Linked DNA regions of Homo sapiens. The protein of the gene in region 3 purifies or fractionates together with the protein of the main gene of each other region. This does not show direct contact. Each region holds a gene or a part of one and is shown on either strand. Other genes may lie near its edges.

Evidence for each region. Proteins that work in one complex are often made in the same cells at the same time.
Region 1: the proteins of DPY19L1 (region 3) and TMEM38B fractionate together in Homo sapiens (co-fractionation; one large-scale study listed by BioGRID). This does not show direct contact.
Region 2: the proteins of DPY19L1 (region 3) and ANKRD22 purify together in Homo sapiens (co-immunoprecipitation; one large-scale study listed by IntAct). This does not show direct contact.
Region 4: the proteins of DPY19L1 (region 3) and ACBD3 purify together in Homo sapiens (pull-down; one large-scale study listed by IntAct). This does not show direct contact.

What each region holds. Positions count from the first base shown.
Region 1 is NC_000009.12:105,722,041-105,725,540, reverse strand, and holds part of TMEM38B (trimeric intracellular cation channel type B), read right to left. Parts: intron 3,008-3,500; coding exon 2,920-3,007; intron 1-2,919. UniProt on the Homo sapiens protein: Intracellular monovalent cation channel required for maintenance of rapid intracellular calcium release. Acts as a potassium counter-ion channel that functions in synchronization with calcium release from intracellular stores.
Region 2 is NC_000010.11:88,820,845-88,824,344, forward strand, and holds part of ANKRD22 (ankyrin repeat domain-containing protein 22), read right to left. Parts: intron 2,535-3,500; coding exon 2,436-2,534; intron 2,175-2,435; coding exon 2,097-2,174; 3' UTR 1-2,096.
Region 3 is NC_000007.14:35,013,486-35,016,985, forward strand, and holds part of DPY19L1 (protein C-mannosyl-transferase DPY19L1), read right to left. Parts: intron 221-3,500; coding exon 83-220; intron 1-82. UniProt on the Homo sapiens protein: C-mannosyltransferase that mediates the C-mannosylation tryptophan residues on target proteins.
Region 4 is NC_000001.11:226,176,742-226,180,241, forward strand, and holds part of ACBD3 (Golgi resident protein GCP60), read right to left. Parts: intron 1-3,500. UniProt on the Homo sapiens protein: Involved in the maintenance of Golgi structure by interacting with giantin, affecting protein transport between the endoplasmic reticulum and Golgi. Involved in hormone-induced steroid biosynthesis in testicular Leydig cells.

The DNA of each region.
Region 1 (3,500 bases), on a different chromosome or scaffold from region 3:
GATAACATTCACATAATGATGAAATGACACATTTCTGAGAACATATCCCCATCGTTAAGCAACACATGACTATATACATAAACACAAACCATCATAATGAACCAGTGATCTATCTCACTTGACCCAGTTGTTGATAATTCATACAGTCATCTAGTATGTATTATCTACTATGTGCTAGGTGCTTGGGACACAAGAGCATTCAAAAGAGACAAAAATATCTGTCCCTAGCATTTTATATTCGTTGAAGGGTGGGAGGAGGAGCCAAGGGGAGGGGAGAATAAACATAATGATTAAGTAAATTACATAACATGTTAGAAGGTGATAAATGTTGTAAAAAAAGTAAAATAGAACGAGGTGTTGCAATTTTAAGCAGGTTAGTCCTCACTGAGAAGGAAGCATTGAGAAAATACTTTGAGCAAAGTAAATAAGGGAGTTAGCCATCTAAGAAAAATCGTTCTAGGTAGTGACAAAAGCTAGTGCTAAACTAGACCATACTTGACTTGCTCAAGCATGGAGTAGAGTGAGCAAGGGAAATAATAACAAGAGATGAAATCAAAGCAAACTGGAAAGGAGGAAAGGCACATTTGGAGGGACTTATAGGCCGTTTGGAGGAATCAATGCAAGGTTTCTGAACAAAGTAGAAACATAATTTGATTTTGGTTATAAAAGCCCAAAAAAATGTTTTATGGAAGGTGTTTCAAGGCATATACTCAAAATGAGAAAAATCTCCCCTGAATATCAAGAGTATCTTATTTATAACTTATCGTTAATCAAAGCTTCCTTTGTTCTATTTCTAAACTACTTCATTCAAACTTAAAGGGGTATTTTTCAAGTTAAATATCCCGAAATTTGTTAGTTCACACAAATGTACTTCATCACTTGTACTGCCTTTCCACCTTCTTCTTTTTTTTTTTTTTGAGACAGAGTCTCACCTCTGTCACCCAGGCTGGAGTGCAGTGGTGCGATCTCAGCTCATTGCAACTTCTGCCTCCCAGGTTCAAGTGATTCTCCTGCCTCAGCCTCCTGAGTAGCTGGGATTATAGGTATATGCCATCACGCCCAGTTAGTTTTTGTATTTTTAGTAGAGACGGGGTTTCACCATGTTGCCCAGGCTCGTGTCGAACTCCTGACGCCTGCCTCGGCCTCCCAAAGTGCTAGGATTACAGGCATACGCCACCGTGCCCAGCCTCAACCTTCATTTTCAATCCATTATAATCTATTTTTAATCCAATTTAAATTAGAAAATGAGCTTATTTTTACATGAAGTCTTTCCTCACCTTGCTTATTACAGCCACCATTCTCTAAGTCTTTTCCTTCTTGAATTATGGGAACAGTAACTATACTTCTCTACCTCATTTTTAGGTACATGAGAAACGTATCTGTGACTTATTTAAGACTGAGTCTGGGCCAGGCACAGTGGCTCAAGCCTGTAATCCCAGCACTTTGGGAGGCCAAGGTGGGTGGATCACCTGAGGTCAGGAGTTTGAGGCCAGCCTGGCCAACATGGTGAAACCACATCTCAACTAAAAATACAAAAATTAGCTGGGCATGGTGGCACACGCCCAAAATCCCAGGTACTTAGGAGGCTGAGGCAGGAGAACTGCTTGAACCTGGGAGGCGGAGGTTGCAGTGAGCCCGAGACCACACCATTGCACTCTGGTCTGGGTGACAACAGCGAAACTCTGACTCAAAACAAAATAAAGACTGAGTTCGGCCAGGCACAGTGGCTCATGCCTGTAATCCCTGCCCCTTGGGAGGCTAAGGAAGGAAGATCACTTGAGGCAAAAGTTAAGACCAGCCTGGGCAACACAGCAAGACCCCATCTCTACAAAAATAAAAATACTGGCTGGGTGTGGTGCTTCACATCTGTAATCCCAGCACTTTTGGAGGCCAAAGTACAAGGATCGCTTGAGCCCAGGAATTCAAGACCAGCCAAGGCAACATACTGAGATGAGACCCTGTCTCTACAAAAATTTTTAAAAGTAGCAGGGCATGATGGCAGATGCCTGTAGTCACAACTACTCAGGAGGCTGAGGTGGAAGGATCACTTGAGCCCAAGAGATCAAGACTGCAGTGACTGCACTCTAGCCTGGGTGACAGAATAAAACCCTGTCTCAAAAAAAAAAAAAAAATACAATTACAAAAATTAGCCAGGCATGATAGCACACACCTGTAGTCCCAACTATTAATACTTGGGAGGCTGAAGTGGGAGGATTACTTGAGCCTAAGAGGTCTAGGCTGCAGTGAGCTATGACTACACCATCGCACTAAAGCCTGAACAACAGAATCTGTCTCTTTAAAAAAGTAATAAATAAGACTAAGTCAGTGTCTTCAGAGAACAGATTATCTTAAATAGATGCAAAAGGCAGTTTGTATCACACAATGGGTTATTTCTCTAATCTTTCTCTTATTTTAATCTGTAATTAAGCTCAACTGACATTTTTTAAAGCAACTCAAAGCACTTTATGATAATGTATTGATTTGATCCCATAAACTTAACATTTTACTATCAGAACTACATATATAGCCTGAAATCTGGATGATGTCATAGTCATTAATGAAAATGCCAAGAGCCTATCACCGATTCATTTTCATCCAGAGAAGTCTATTCCTACGTAGCTTTCACTTTATAAATATATACTTTTCCCACAATTCTACTATAATCTAGAGGTTTTTGTTTGATTTTGTTTTCTAAGGAGAGAAACCCACAGAGAAGGAAAATATATATTTTAAACTACATTTGAGAAAGCAGACTTTTTAAAAGAACAAAATTTGCTAGTTCTCTTCCCATTATCATTACTATTTATATTTTCAGCTATATTCCACCCACATTTAAAGTCCCTAAAATGTTCTTAAAAAGGAATTTGGTAAGATCTAAGGATAAACATCTAGGTCTCAGTATAATTTATACCAACTTACTATGACATCTTCAGCCATTCATCACCTTCTGGTTTCCAATCTCCTTTTACCAACCTCTCAAAATTCGTTATAATGGTACCACCTGCACCTAAAAATATGAAAATAAAACAAGAATATTTGGCCAAATTTTCCTGTAAAACATATTTAAAGGGAGCCATAATTCTATCACCTGATAATACATTCCAAGAGGATTCCCAAAATATAATTCTTGGAAAGAAGAAAAAAGTTGCCTTGTACATTTAGGGTACTAAAACAACTGCAATTCTTCCCTTTCACCAGCATGTCAACTGTTAAAACTGGGGCCTCGGGCACAAAGATATGGTTAGAAGTTTGTTTCAGAACTGAAAAATAAAATCCTCTGCTTTATCATTTCCTTTCCTGATACGACCGGTTTCAGGTGCAGTATACTGTAAAAAGAGGTTACAGAGATTTGTTCAATTCCTACATGCAAAACAAAAAGGCAAGTGATGTAAAGTTCAATGATCATGAACCCATAGTCAATCATATTTATTATTTCTAGTAATTCTGAATGAAAAAAACACAGAAAAGACAGAGCAATATTTTTTATTCATATGTACCAC
Region 2 (3,500 bases), on a different chromosome or scaffold from region 3:
AAATTGGGACAGATATTGAGGTCTGGAGTCTGTGGATTATTGTTGACTTTGACAAAATAAGCTAGACATTTTCACCTTGTTGCCACAGAGACATAACACTACCTCAGGAAGCTGAGCTGCTTTAAGGACAACAACAACAAAATCAGTGTTACAGTATGGATGAAATCTATGTTAAGCATTCTCAGAATAAGGCCAAGTTTTATAGTTGCATCTCAGGGAAGAAAATTTTATAGGATGTTTATGAGTTCTCCAATAAATGCATTCTGCATTACATAAAGCATGTATGTGCATTTCAGTGTCTAGATTCTAGTCCAAGCTTGTTGGAAGGTTTACAGCTTGTTGCTAGGAGACCTAATGACTAAAAATTTCTGGCTCAATTTTCTGCCTCCAAAAATTAAAAGCTAGGGAGAAAATTGCATAATGTCATGAGCATGATGAAACAAATTGTCATATACTTTATCCTTTAATCTTGACAAAGTTAATGTCAGACAGTCTCTGCAACTCATTGACAAACCATGATTTATTTCTTCAGAAAATTATTCCACTTTTACACAATTTCAAAGATGACAGTTGTAAATTACATTGGTACTATTTTGCAAAATCTCTGAAACCAAATCAAAGGTTTGTGTGTGTCAAAAGTATATTGTTGAAGGTATACTGGTGTGTGAAATTCACTTGTGTGGGTTTTTTGTCCCCAAGGGTCACCTGGTAGCTCAGCTCAATGCCAGTGAATCTTAATTTATTAAGACACGTTTAAAGACTTCAGAATCTATATCTACACACTATTACTTCCTTCATAAAATAAGTTTCTTAAATCCTGTACACAGTTGAATATATATTGCTGGATTTGATTTTCATTAGAGCTTTCAAGGATGGTAAATCTTTCATTCTTATACTGTACTTGTTACCACATACAAAGAGGCTGGCTTAGTTCCTGTCTGCAGCTATGTGAGATTCAGTCTTGATTTTCAAAATTCAGTCATATTTTTAAAGTGAATTTATTTCTACTCTGTGTCATTCACAGAAGAAGTGAGACAGATATTTTGATATTCGCAATCTCTCACTTAGACAAATAATCCAGATCCTACCTCATTGTATAGCTCTGTTTCTTTTGAAGAACTTTATCCAAATAAGTTACAATAATATTTTACATCTATCAATAAAATAAACAAAACTAACAAGCTTGGCAACCACCTTGTATTTACAAAAGGATCATGAAGATTTTTTTAAACGAACATTTTCATAGTTGCATAGTCTTGCTCAAACCAAGATGGCTTTTATTTGTAAACCGAAATCTCTAGTGGTATGCTGGTAAACGAACTTTATGGAAAGTAAAAAACAAAAAAACAAAAACAAACTCTGATTTGTCAATTTGCCAATTTCTGTGGTGTAAACACACTCACCGCTGACACTTGATAGATGTTTTTATTGAAATTCCTTCACCAAAGGAATATTTACTTGTGAATCTCTAAGCCCACACACATACACAAATACCATTCTGTACAAACATACGTATTTAATAATTTGATTCTTCTGCTCAATACTCAAAGGGGGCTGGGAGGAACAGTTTGTCTCCTAGGGCATGACATAGACTGGACAGTCTTTTTATAAGAGTGATACAACTGGGAAGGGAGAACGCTGTTTCAGAAGATAACTCAGATCCTCTTCTTCAGGAAAGACTGAGTTTGGAACACCAGGGCTTTTTTTTTTTTTTTTTTTTTTGAGACAGGGTCTCGCTGTGTTGCCCTGGCTGCTCTCAAACTCCTGAGTTCAAGTGATCCTCCCACCTCAGCCTCCCAAGTAGCTGGGATTACAGGCATGTACCACTGTGCCTAGCTGAAACATCAGTTTCTGACTGAAGTGGAGACTACAACAACTTTAGTGTTTCCCTTAGAAGGATTACGGCCATGGTGAACTTGACTGAGTAAACAATGCTATAAATAAAAAGCTCTTCCAAAACATTAACCATGGTAAGCATCATTATCCCCATAAAATGGTGGCATCCAGGTTAAATGGCCCACAGACCAAAAGTCTAAAATGAAGATAGAATCCAGTCGTTAACTTTTTCTGTATCTCCATCGGTGTGGTCACAAGGATTACAATGCTTTCCTTAGCATTAATTCAATCTGGGAAAATTTTAATCTCCGTGCAATATCCAGTGAGCTCTCACCATGCTGAGGGGGGAAAAATATACAGTTATTTCCAATAGAGTGCCCAAGATCTCGTACGTAGCTTAGACCAATTGACTCTCTGTGTTGGCAAGGGCTTTAAAAGGCAATCAGTCCTAATAGTAATAGGATAACTTCATTCCTTAATGAGGATGATTAATTTTACTGTTGTTTACGTCAGAGGCAAATAATTTACTTCAACATAAGGCCTAGATTAGAAGATGCTGCTGCTAGAGGAACCTCAGACCACGGTCCACCCTCCCTTACCTTATTCTTTATTGTGGGGTCTGCACGGGCTTCCAAGAGCAGAGGGATAAGAGACTGGTTTTTCATTTCACAGGCATAATGTAATGCGGTACAGCCATACTGAAACACAAAGGGCCAAAACTTCAGCTCATAAGTCGGGCCCTCCACAGACCATAGCATGTGGCTTCATTGGCAAATCCTTTTCACACTTTGTAGTATACAACTAAGCAGAAAAATAGTCTGCAAACCATTGATAGACAACTATTTCTAGTACTTAAAAAATTTTTCGCCGGGCGCGGTGGCTCACGCCTGTAATCCCAGCACTTTGGGAGGCCGAGGCGGGCGGATCACGAGGTCAGAGGATCGAGACCGTCCTGGCTAACACGGTGAAACCCTGTCTCTACTAAAAGATACAAAAAATTAGCCGGGCGCGGTGGCGGGTGCCTGTAGTCCCAGCTACTCCGGAGGCTGAGGCAGGAGAATGGCTCGAACCCGGGAGGCGGAGCTTGCAGTGAGCCGAGATTGCGCCACTGCGCTCCAGCCTGGGCGACAGAGCGAGACTCCGTCTCAAAAAAAAAAAAAAAAAAATTTCTTCTCTGTCTCAATGTATATGTATGTTAGTGTCATATAAGCCATCAATCTCTGCCTTTTTGTTTTCCATTTTCTGTTCTAAAGAATGCAACTTAAAAAAGCTGATGCTGAATTGTGCCAAAGTTTCTTTGTCGCATGCTATATGCCTCGGTGATCATCACCTTGATCATGTCACCATCTTTCCCTTAAAGAGTCTCCACATGGCCCTTTACATAAACATTATCCTCTATGGTTTTGGTGATGATTCCTACTGAAGAAGTCGGGTGCTCTTGCTGCAGGACACCTGCAAGATCAGTGCAGTTCTACAGAGACATTTCCCAAACGTGATTTGTTATAGCTTATATTATGTGTTATAAGCTAGTGCATCTACTCTGTTGGTACTAATTTAAAACACTACAGGTCAAAAAAATTATAGCTAGGGCATTAGTGTCCAAAATTTGGCCTTTGGAAAAGTAGCCAAGCAACCATGGTGCTGGTGAGTGAAGAAATAGTACC
Region 3 (3,500 bases):
TATATCTTAGATTTAGAATCAGCGTTTAATACAAAAAAGTTTTTACAAAAGTGAAAAATCACAATTGGAAAAAGTACCTTACCTCAGGGTAAAGATTGAATCTTTTTAATGTATTAATGACAAGGGGGTATTCAGTCAGTTTATCATTCATAATCATCCATACTCCATTCAAAAATGAGGGTGCTTCCACAATAGTCTTGAAATAGGAATAATATAGTCCCTGAAATAAAGATATGCTCAATTAAAATAACAAAAGGTACATAATTATGATGCCACTTCTAAGTAAATACACTGTTTTTGAAAAACAAAGCAATTAAGTAATAGCTATTAATACAATGAATTTCACAGGTTTCTGATCACTGATAAATCCTAAAGTTGTGAAAAAACTATGTATTTTCACATAAATGCATCTTAATTGAAATAACTGAATGCAAAATAGCTTCAAAAAGTTTCAGCATTTAAAAAATAATACGACTCAGCATACTTCAACTTAGAAAATCCTATTACTTATACTAATATCACTCTTAGAAAATGCTATCTTATGAATAGAGTGAGTGGTTTATTATGGAACTAAAATTTATCATGAACCAAGAAATCTCAAGCCAAAAATACTCCTCTAACTGCTTATTTTAATCCCCAAAATGACACTATCAGTCATTTTTCCTCCGGATTTACATGCAAAAATGCAAATGTGTTGAGAAGGCTACACACTGATGTATTATTACATATGAATTTCACTCGGGTGCCACCTAATTTTACAGATTATTTTCCCTCCTATCAAGTCAGCATAAGGTAAGAACCCTGTGCGACTGGGGATAAGGGTGGGGAGTGGTCCTCTTTTGAAGAAAAGAGACAGTTTTTAGCTTGGCACACTACTTTGGAAAGATAGCAAGGGTGAAATAATATGTGAGACAAAAAAAAAACAAGAAAATACTAGAAGCCTAACGGAGAGTCTAAGTGGCAGTATGAGGGAAGACAGAAACACAAGATAAATCTACGTCTTGTATTTGCATCTTCAGTTTTCCCTGGAGCTGCCCTGGTAGCCAGTACCAGTAGCTGCCAAAGTTTAAACTGGGTTTAAGACTCACAAATACAAAAGAGATATGCCTATCCAGAAACTTATTGAAAAAGAAAAAAATGGTCTTGATACTCTGATGTATCGACTCTGATACCACTATTTTTAAAATTATGTTTCCTTGTGTACTGATTTGGATAGTGTCCCCTAAAATTTCATGTCCACCAGACCCTGTGGAGTGATCTTATTTGGAAATGGGATTCTTGCAGACGTGATCAAGTTAAGATGAGGTCATATTGGATTAAGGTGGACTCTAAACCCAACACAACTGATGTACCTACATAAAGAGGAATATTTGGCCTCAAAGCTACAGGCACACAGGGGAAAAGGCCATGTGAAGAGGGGTCAGAGACTGGGGTGAGGCATCAGCATGCCAAGGAATTCCAAGGATGGCCAGCAACCACCAGAGGCTGAGAAGAGACAAGGAAGGACTCTCCCCTCCAGCCTTCAGAGACAAGATGCCCGTCAACACCTTAATGTCCCACTGCTAATCTCTGGAACTGTGAGAGAATATATTTCTGCTGTTTTAAGCCACCTAGCTTGTTGCACTTCTTTATGACAGCCCTAGGAAACTATACCTTCCTTCTTTTGTAGGTTTGATTTTGGAAACATATGTTTAATTATAAAACAAAAATTTAAAAATCCCTAAATATCAAAATAAAAATGAAAGAAAGGAATTAACTATTTATCAACTTGGAAGAAGATTTCAAGTAACATTAAGATACTGTAATTTTACTGTATATCCCTAGTGGACTATATCCTAAGGTTAAAATGGAGCCCAGGAACTTGGCAGGACTGGTTTCACAAGTTACAGGTCACAAAGACCCTGCTGATAACACAGGATGCGGTGAAGAAGCCAGCCAAAACCTGCCAAAACCAAGATGGCAACTAAAGTGATTTCTGGTCATCCTTAGTGCTCATTATAATACATTAGCATACTAAAGGAAACTCCCACCAGCAGCATGACAGTTTACATATGCCATAGCAACCTCTGGAAGTTACCCTGTATGGTCTGAAAGAGGGAGGAATCCTCAGTTCCAGGAATTCCCCTCCCTGTTCCCAAAATACTCATGAATAATCCACCTCTTGTTTATCATATGATGAAGAGATAACCTTAAAAACAATCAACCAGCAGCCCTCACAGCTGCTCTGCCTGTGGAGCAGCCACCCTTTCATCCCTTTACTTTCTTAAGGTAAACTTCTTTTCACTTTACTCTGTTGGAGCATTCTTGAATTCCTTCCTGCCCAAAGCCAAGAACCCACATGGCCTCCTGGGCTGAGCCCCAATTCTGGGGGTTGCCCTGTGAAGAAGCGAACTGCAAGAAAATCTTAAACTCTTTTCAGTAATCACATTTTTAATTATACCTTTGGTACTTTTATTCCTAACAAATCAATAATTTGAAACCAAGATTCTCAAACTAAAAGATTAATATCAAATAAGTAAAAAAAAATCTAATCTTGTTTCCATTTAAAAAATTAATATAAATTCATGATTTCTTTTCTCTTTAAAAAAATTTTTGTAGCCTAATTCTCTTCAGTAAAAAGGCCAAAATACAATGGCCAATCTAGTAGCAATGAGCATCTGCCACTGACAGAAATGGTGGCTCATGGGAAAACTGGCTGATGCCAGGTCTGAGAAGAAAATGTCTTGTAGTACCTGAAAGTAAGGAAGCCATGGATACTAGTGAGGTCACATCAAGGGCAAACAAGGAGAGCTGCAAGGGCTTTAATAGCTAAAGACAGGAAAGTTTACAAAATATGTTAAAATCCATCATATCATAATGATACTCCAAAAGAAGGTACTCCATTGATCACTACTAGAAGATGCTAGGGAAGCTACTCATTTTTCTGAATATTAGTAAATAAAAAGAAAGAATAAAGCATCTTTCTGACTTTCCTCTATGATATACCTCAGGGAGAAATCAAAAGGTATTGTGTGAAAGTTCTTAATAGAAGAATTATAGCTAATAAGTGCAAAGAAAAAAATGATAGATTAGGTACCACAGTTTGAGAAGGATAATGAAATAACTAACCTAGGCTGATGGCTAGGCTATAGGAGGAATCAGCATCACAATACCTAAAGCCAGTGATCACTCTTAACATCACAGAAAGTGAGACAACCAGATATGATGTGCCTCTTGGCCTGATACAATAGAAGTATACAGCACCACCTAGGAAGTATTCCTGCCAGAAAATAAGTCAAATCTTCTGATCCATAAATGTTCAGGAAACTTGGGATACAGGAACATAATTGAAGAATGAGGATTATTGTGGGTAATTCTATAGGACAAATCAGCTGGATTTCTCAACAAACAAATAGCAGGAAAACAAAACAAAAACAGGTAAAGAAATTCACATATTAAAAGACTTAAGATACACATCAACTAAATGCAATGTGTAGGCACTGTTTGGATCCTATTCAAAC
Region 4 (3,500 bases), on a different chromosome or scaffold from region 3:
ATACATGAAGAAAAAAATGCCTCAACTTTTGTGAATACTGACTCACAATGTCAAATAATCAGCAAAATTATAAGGCTAATTATAAAGTTTATCTGATCCATGACTGTCAATGAGATATTTTAATATTTCTTCTCAGTAAATTTAAAAAAACAGTATTTGTTAGTAGATAAATTGTTAGAAATTGTTTATTAACTGCTTTCGAAGAAACATGTCCAGCAACTTTGAGGAAAAAATGTGCACATTATTTTTAATCACATACAATCAAACATAATTGGTAATGTACCGAAGATTACATTCAGCCGTGAGTAACAGGAAACACCCACAATATTCCTGATATGAGGAAAGTGCTTATTCTCACATCAAAGTACTGGGTGAAACCAGTCACTGCACAATGCGGCAGAGGAACAAATTCCCATGTAGCTGTTTTTTTTTTTTTTTTTTTTAGACGGAGTCTTGCTTTTGTCGCTTGAACCGGGACGGGTTCAAGTGGTCCCAGTTGATGCTGGAGTGCAGTGGTGTGATCTCAGCTCACTGCAAGCTCCACCTCCCAGGTTTACGCCATTCTCCTGCCTCAGCCTCCCAAGTAGCTGGGACTACAGGTGGCCACCACCACTCTTGGCTTTTTTTTTTTTTTTAAGTAGAGACGGGTTTCACCGCATTAGCCAGGATGGTCTCCATCTCCTGAACTCGTAGATCCGCCTGCCTCAGCCTCCCAGAGTGCTGGGATTACAGGTATGAGCCACCGTGCCCAGCCCCACGTAGCTGTTTTTGACAGTACCATTGTAGCTGTCATCTTGAATCAGGAACAGTCAATACCAGTATGAACAGAGGAGTTTACTATACAAATCAGATCTTCTATCAATTTAATCCATAGACTAGGGGAGTCAGATCATCAGAGGATATTCCCAACCATGAGAGTCTGAACAGGTTGTCCGGTACACGTTAGGGCTTGCAGGAAAATCTTAAGTGCAGACGGATTTTTAGTATGAGTTGTTTTGAGCCACTATTTTTTTTTTTTTTTAGACAGGGTCTTGCTCTGTAGCCCAGGCTGGAGTGCAGTGGCACGATCTCACTCACTGCAACCTCTGCCTCCCAGGTTCATGTGATTCTCCCACCTCAGCCTCCTGAGTAGCTGGGGCTACAGGTACAAGCCACCAAGCCTGGCTAATTTTTGTGGGGTTTTTTTTGCAGAGATGGAGTTTTCCCATATTGCGCAGGCTGGTCTGGAACTCCTGAGCTCAGTGATCCACCTGCCTCAACCTCCCAAAGTGCTGGGATTACAGACGTGAGCCACTACACCCAGCCCAAGCCAATAAATTTGTGGTAATTTGTTACAAGAGCAATAGGAAACTAACATGATATACAAAACACATTTTTCAGGCAATTAAAAACAGATAATGGGATGTACATTATGTTCTTACTAAACTCACAAGTATTTAACTTTACAGTTCAAATAGGACAGCATAATTTGATACCAAGTCCAAAGCTCTGAAAGATTACAATTAAGTCCCTCCCACCTGAAATTAAGTATACAAAAGACTATTAGGGGCTGGGCGCAGTGGCTCACACCTGTAATCCCAGCACTTTGGGAGGCCAAGGTGGGCGGATCATCAGGTCAGGAGTTCGAGACCATCCTGGCTAACATGGTAAAACCCCGTCTCTACTAAAAGTACAAAAAAAAAAATTAGCCGGGCATGGTGGCGGGCGCCTGTAGTCCCAGCTACTCGGGAGGCTGAGGCAGGAGAATGGCGTGAACCCGGGAGGCGGAGCTTGCAGTGAGCCGAGATTGCGCCACTGCACTCCATCCTGGGCGACAGAGCAAGACTCCGTCTCAAAAAAAAAAAAAAAAAAAGACTATTAGGCTCACACCTCAATTGCTATTTTATAGGAGAAATCATATTTTTTCTCTTCTCTCTGGAGGCAAAGGAAAGTACCAAATTATTTCAATGTCCCTTCTAGCCTTCATTTAATGAAAGAAGGCCATAAAATCTACGGCGTGGAAAGGATGTTAAAGATAGGTGATTGAATTGCAAACTAAATCTCAAATCCTCTCTACAATATCCACCCAGCAATTGCTAACCTATGCTTGAATACTTCCTGGTGATAAGAACTCACTGTCCCAAAGCAGTCTAATCCATCTTTGAATAGCTGTGATTCTTAGCTCTTTATTCTGAGGTGGTATCTCTCAACTCCATCCACAGGGTTTATTTCCTGTCCTCAGCATTAACTAAAACACATCTAACTAATTAGACCTCAAGAAAGTCACAAAATATGTATTGTGTTTGCCCTGAGTTCTCTATTCTCTTGGCTACACATTCCCAGCTTAGTCAATCATACTTCAAATTTAAATTTAATTCCCAGCTCTGCTATTAAGTATATAACATGGACAAGTTATTTAATCTTTTGAAATCTGTTTTGTTATCAATAAAATAAATACTGCTCCTTAGGGTTCATATGAGTGTTAGAAATGTGTCCCAAAATCTTTGTATAGTGCCTGCACAGAGCAGACACTGACTAAACAGCAGCCATTATGATAATAATGGCAGGGACTTGAATTCCCACTAGGTACAAGTTGCTCTCTTCTGAATGAGCTCCATTTTGTTTTTAACCCTAAAGGATGATGCCTCAAACAAGCAGTATCCACGGCTTGTTTGAGGTGTACTCCTTGGTGCAGAGGAGAGCAGGACTATCTCTCTCTTTCCCTCATCCTAGTTACCATATTTCCACCAAAGCAGCCTAAGATCAAATCTGTTTTATTTCATGGCCATATCACACTGTTGCCTCACAGAGAATACACTTTGATTAAAATCCATCTTTTAGAAATATTAAAACTGGGCCAGGCGTGGTGGTTCACGCCTGTAATCCCAGTACTTTGAGAGGCCGGGTGGGCAGATCACCTGATGTTGGGAGTTTGGGACCAGCCTGACCCAACATGGAGAAACCCCATCTCTACTAAAAATACAAAAATTAGCCGGGTGTGGTGGTGCACACCTGTAATCCCAGCTACTTGGGAGGCTGAGGCAGGAGAATCGCTTGAACCCAGAAGGCAGAGGTTGCAGTGAGCTGAGATCGCACCACTGCACTCTAGCCTGGGCACCAAGAGTGAAACTCCGTCTCCAAAAAAAACCAAATATTAAAACTGAAAAACCAACTAGGTGCAGCAGCTCACGCCTGTAATCCCAGCACTTTGGGAGGCCGAGGTGGATGGATCACAAGGTCAGGAGTTCAAGACCAGCCTAGCCAACATAGTGAAACCCTGTCTCTACTAAAAATACAAAGATTAGCTGGGTGGGGTGGCACGTGCCTGTAGTCCCAGCTACTCGGGAGGCTGAGGCAAGAGAATAGTCTGAACCTAGGAGGCGGAGGTTGCAGTAAGCCAAGACTGGGCCATTCCACTCCAGCCTGGGCAACAGAGCAAGACTCTGTCTCCCAAAAAAAAAAAAAAAAAAGGATAATACAATGCAGTATTCCTAAATCAATGAGTAGGAAACACTCTGGGA